2 separate regions of the Homo sapiens genome follow, and region 1 is linked to region 2. The links come from fine-mapping of genetic effects on gene expression. A gene starts in region 2. The other region holds a variant in brackets. All regions are shown on one strand. Distances are between the middles of the regions.

Region 1 (2,918 bases), 30 kb after region 2:
GTAATGAGCATATCAAAGAACCAGCTTTTGGTTTTATTGATTTTCTGATGATTTCAGTGTTTTAATTTTATTGATTTCTGTGATGTTGTTTATTACTTTTACTTGCTTTCCATTGCATTCCTCTATTTTCTACAGTTCCCTAATTGAAACATGATATTACTGATTTTAGATCTTGTGATTTTTAGTATATTACATCCAATGCTATAGATTTCCCTCTAAGGACTGCTTTTGCTACATCCAGAAATCTTGCCAAGTCACATTTTCTTTTAATGTAGTTAAAAGTATTTTTAATTTTCTATTGAGACTTCTTCTTTAACCCATGAGTTATTTAAAACTGCATTGCTAATTTGCAAATATTTGGGGATTTTGTGGCTCTTTTACAGTTGTTGATTTTTTGTTGTCAGGTATGTGTTGCAAAAGCAGTCATCTACCTCATCTTGCCACCACCCAAGATGGCCCAGGATGTGGGCTCTCCCTGAGTGAATCTTTGGCAATCTGCCAACCTGATGTGGTCGGCCTCCTTCTTTAGTCTGAGCTTGTCTTCTGCTTAGAAAGGGCCATTCTCAGTTCTGGCAGGGAGTTTTCCCAACATTGAGAAGGTGGCATTCTTACTCCCCAGTGCAGCCTGCACCTCTGACCGGTGGTCAGCAGACAGGACAGAGGTCCTCATTAGACAGAGTTCAGCGGGGTCTCTGACCAAAGGGCATCTTCAGAGTCTGCACCTACCCACTGTGACCATGGGCAGGCTCTGAGTCCTAAAGCAGGAGGAACCGTGCGACCATCCTGATTGGAAATTTGTGAGGATCACCATGTTACTCAAGTAAGGTCTTTGGAAAGTGTCGTATTACTACTGTTTGTGAACTTCTTGTTGGTGGCCTGGCTGAGCCACACACTTTATGAAAACCAGGACCCCTCAGCTGGTGTGGGTGTCTATGCAGCCTGAGACCCTCATGTGAACAGCCTCGTGGTAGCTGTCTTTGCCCCTTGCCACCATCAGTGCCTCCTTGTTCCTGGGCACTGCTTTCTCTGATGGTGCTCCATTGTTTTCCTGCACCTCAGTGTCTACAGCTGGATGTCTCTTCTGCAATCTAGGTGAGGGGGCATCAATAACAGTTCTGCTGTGGCACTGCCCTCCTTCTTAGCTTGTCTTGCTCCGTCTTAGGCTCCCTCAAAGATCCCACCCTTCAGGTTCTTCCACAAGTTTCTTATTGAAATCCGAGCAGAAAACTATGACCAATATGACCAATCGTATACCCACTGAAGACATGAATGTAGAATTAAAACAATTCTCCATGGACTCTACCATATAGATCCCTAGAAGTAATTTCTAAAAAAAAAAAAAAATCAAGGAAGATGTAATAGTTTTCCATAAATTAGAATACCCTACATGTACAATTAAATGAAATGGCTAGTATAGTCTTGAAACCAAAACCAGATAAGGTAAATTAAATTCTGTGATATTTTAAAATACTGTAAATTCTGACTAAT[G/A]TGAGTTAATCTCAAAATATGAAATAGTAGATTAACATTGAAAATGCAATAAATAAAATTAGCTACCTCAAGAGTTTAATGGAAAAAAATGTGATTATTGCAATAGATTCAGGAAATTCGTGAATAACATTCACCCTATATTTGTAGGACAACTATCTGATTAAGTGACCTGTGACAACCATTTGAATTAATGCTGCTTTCACAGCATATCTCTTGGCTTGTTAAAAACCCGACAAGAATTTCCATAACATTAATTTATTTTTAACACCTATATTGGGTGTGAACCCACCATAAAGTTTGCCCACTGAAAAGGTCTGCAATTTGATGCTTTATTAAATTGATACTGTGTGCACCCAACACCACGATCTAATTTAAATATGTTTCCCTCACCCAAGTTCTCTCTTGTGCACTGGCAGTTAATCCCCACTCCCATCTCCAGCCCTAAGCAATACTGCTGTGACATTCCATCTCCATAAATTTCCCACTTGCTTTATAGAAATGGACATATATATATATTTGGAATCTGACTTCCTTCATTTAGCATACTATGTTTGAAGTTAATTGACGTGTTAGCACGTGCTGGTCATGTGTTTTCCTTCATAGTCTGCTGTGTTTATTCATACAGATAGTGTTTATTCATTTATCAGTTAATGGACATTTAATTATTTTGTTTTTTTCTTTGATGAGTAATGTAGCTTTGAGCATTCATATACAGTCATGTAATGCATAATGACATTTTGGTCAAAAAAAATTTTTTTTTTTTCTGAGACCCAGGCTGGAGTGCAGTGGCACAATCTCAGCTCACTGGAACCTCCACCTCCCAGGTTTAAGCAATTCTCATGCCTCAACCTCCCGAGTAGCTGGGACAACTGGCACACACCACCACGCATGGATAATTTTTGTATTTTCAGTAGAGACAGGATTTTGCTGTGTTGGTCAGGCTAGTCTCAAACTCCTAGCCTCAGGTGATCCGCCCACCTCTGCCTCTCAAAGTGCTGGGATTATAGGCATGAGCCACCACACCCAGCCTAATTTTTTTAAGAAACGAGAACTATTTTCTAAATTACTTTTGCCAATTTATATTCCTACCATGATGCATAGTACTAATTTCACTGTACAATGTATGGTAGGCCCCAATATGTAAGAAATGATGAAAGTAACACATAAAGATTAGTATAAAACAAATGAGATTATCATTGTTGCTATCATCTTTGTCAAATTCTGAAAACAATCTGAGTATATTTTTATATAAATATGCTTGGCAACATAGCTGAAAAAAGCATTATCAGTTACATTTATCAGTAACAAAGACATAAATTTGAAGGGGGAAAAACACTTGTACTAACAACGCAATGTCAGAATTAACATAAAAATTCTGCTGGTCACTTTGGAATATTTAATTGCCTGGGGCAGTGTTTAGTAGACAAATG
Region 2 (2,918 bases):
GCGTGACATCAAGAGCTCTGCAGCCAGGGCCTGGGACAACCTCCCGCTCCACCTCCCCGGAGCCTCGCAGCCAGCATCCCCAGCGGCCCGTGCGCCCCGGCCAGGCGGGACCTCAGCGCTGTGGCGGCCGCAGACCTCACCTGGGCAGGCCCCGGGCTGCATGCGGACCGCCGGGCGCCCAGGACCCTAGAGGCAACCAGCGGGCTGGATCCGCACAGCGGCCATGGGGAATGGATGGTGTACAGGGGACAAAGCTACACACGTCTTTCATTTTGGAGGGGGGAAAAAAGAAAAAACGGAAATGAAAGATAGAAAATGTGTGGGCTCTCCGTCCTTTCCTTTGCTCCTGAGCGCTCTCTGGGGTGGGGGGCTCAGCGAGCTTCAAGAGGTGGCCGAGATTCCCCCACCTCGCCCCCAGATCCCCGGGAGAGGTCAGCACGGCCCCTCCCGTGGGTGTCACAGAGACCGATGCGGGTCCCGCTCCCCGGGAAGGAGTGGGTCTGGGTCCAGTCCACAGGATCCCCTCGCGGATGCTGACGCAGAATGGAGTTGAGGTGGGGGCAGCGCTGGACCCCAGGGTCCCTCCCTGCCTCCTGGGGAGCCCGGTGACCCAGGCAGCCCTGGTGAGGCCGCAGGAGTCTGGGCCCTAGCGACGCCCCCGGGCTCCCACAGGACGAATGTAGACGGTGAGGCCAAGGACGCCCTGCTGCCCTCGGGACTGTCCCTCCAGCCCCCAGCTTTCCGTGGCTATTGGGCCCCCTCTGCAGAGGGGCAGGGGAGCCCACCCTGGATCCTGAGGCGCCGAGCTTGAGGGACCCCAGAGCTCCAGCCAGGCCGCTTTCTTTGAGGATGGTGAAGCTGAGGTCCCGAGGAGGGCAGGGGCAGGTCCCGGGCGCTCCTCAGGCAAAGGGAGCCGATTTAGGGGCTGGGGTCACAGGAGGGGCTTCTGCGACCTCTAGGGCCCTAGAGCCCGGGAGGATGACAGACTGGGGGCCTTTCTTCCACCCCTGGGGCTGGGCAGACGCTCAGCCTGTGCAACCCGAAGCTGCTTCTGCCCAGTCCCAGCCGCGGCCCCTTTAAGAGGGGGTGGTGCTTCAGCCTGGCGCCAGGGACGCTGCCAGCATGCAGGCCCCGAGGGAAGCCGAGACTGCGCTTCGTGCGAGGCCCGGGCAGCATCGGCGGCGTGGTCAGAGCGAGTCTCGGAGAAGATGTGGTGGCTTCCGTTTGTTGGTGGAGGAGGTGGCAGGCCTCGGCGGTAAGTGGAGGGGGATGAACCCCACCTGGAACCCTCTGGGTCTCCCTACTCCTTCCCGGCCGCTCCCTGCTTTCGGGCCCTGACTTCTAAGTGGGCATCTGGGCCCGAGTCGTCAGCGTTGGGGCGGTTGTGGGATCCTGGCCTCTGCAGCGTCCACACCCCCGCCGGGAAGGCTATGCCCCGGTCCGACCCACGTCCAGCCTATAGGAGCGCCCTGGCCCAGAGCCGGCGGTGAAGCGCTGGACTGGGTCCCTCCGAGCCCCACGGGCCTCTGAGCTGGGGTCTAGGGTTATTTTTTATGCCTCAGGACCTTTAGAAAGAGACCTCGCTAGAGCAGGGGACATCTGTAGTTTCAATTCTTTGAGGAGTTTCCAGCTATTTAACTGTTTTCCATGGTGTGTACCCTAATTTTCATTTCCACCTACAGTGTATGAGTTCCCGTTTCTCCAAAACCAAACCCCCATTCCAATTTTTTTTGTTTTTGTTATTTCGAGACGGAGTCTCGCTCTGTCTCCAAGGCTGGAGGGCAGTGGCGCCATCTCGGCTCACTGCAACCTCCACCTCCCGGTTTCAAGCAATTCTCCTGTCTCAGCCTCCTGTGTAGCTGGGACTACAGGCGCCCGCCACCACGCCCGGCTAATTTTTGTATTTTTATGTTTAGTAGAGACGGGGTTTCACGATATTTGTCAGGCTGGTCTGAAACTCGTGACCTCAGGTGATCCACCCGCCTTGGCTTCCCAAAGTGCTGGGATTACAGACGTGAGCCACGGCTCCCAGACCCTCCTATTTTTAAAAAATTTTTCTAGGAATATTCAATAAGTGTGAGACTATCTGCGTGTGGTTTTGAATTACAGTATTCTAATGAATAGTTAATTTCGAGGACCTTATCTCTTATCTGTTGTTCGATTTTATATCTGTGCAGAATTGTCTCTTTAGGTTATTTGCGAAATATTAGATTGGATTCTTTTTCTACTTTGTACTCTTTTTTGTGTACACGTTAGTTGACAACTCCTCGTGAATTACATGATTGCCTGAAATTTTTGCATAATCTATGGGATGCTTTTTTATTTGGAAAGTAGTTTTCTTTGCCATGCAGAAACTTTTCACGTTGATGTAGTCCCATATTTTTTTTTTTTTTGCGTTTTATGCGTGTCATAATGGTCACCCATATTAGAAAATATGCATCAGTAACAAAGCATTTAATTGTCAGTGAGGTTTTTCTTCCAGGGTGTTTGTTTCTTTTCCTCTTTGCAAAGGTTAACAGAGATTCAAGTGACCCAAAATATATGCTCAACCTGTGTTTTACTTAAGTAAACACAGTAATTTTTTAAAAAACATTTTGTGGTTTATGGTATTTTGTTTTGGCCTTCAGTTGATGGGGGGGGCGGTTGATTTTCATACATCGTGTAAAATAAGGGTCCTGTTTCTCGCTTTTGCATCCGGATATCATTTTTCTCAAAGCTATTCATTGATCAGACTCTGCCTTCCACATTGTGGTGTTCTTTATCAAAGTCAGTTGACTGTGTCCATATTTGTGTTGTTTTTGTCCTCCCTGTTTTTGTCCATAGTTCTAGGTATTTCTTTTTATGCAAGTACCATATATCTACTGCATAACTACAACTTGGCAATTTAATTTGATATCAAGGATTGTGGGTTCTCACTT

Alleles and levels. Alleles are on the strand shown, and positions count from the first base shown. SD is a standard deviation of normalised expression in the study named.
In carriers of allele A in region 1, the expression in stomach of the gene that starts at base 1,141 in region 2 tends to be lower than with G alone (moderate effect, 0.55 SD a copy in GTEx).

The links. PIP is the estimated chance that this variant, and not a neighbour inherited with it, causes the effect. A credible set is the group of variants that fine-mapping cannot tell apart.
Region 1: its variant is the best candidate, but not a certain one, in a credible set for the expression of FAM230C in stomach (GTEx, PIP 0.62).

The regions. Positions count from the first base shown.
Region 1 is chr13:18,224,102-18,227,019 of GRCh38, forward strand. The region is part of intron 4 of FAM230C (family with sequence similarity 230 member C); the gene reads left to right. Among named protein-coding and RNA genes, the nearest start is that of FAM230C, 30 kb to the left of the region's middle. The variant G/A (reference allele first, on the strand shown) is at 1,489.
Region 2 is chr13:18,194,157-18,197,074 of GRCh38, forward strand. FAM230C (family with sequence similarity 230 member C) reads left to right here and starts at 1,141. Exons shown (of 8, transcript NR_027278.1): 1 at 1,141-1,255. It also overlaps the pseudogene LOC124903223.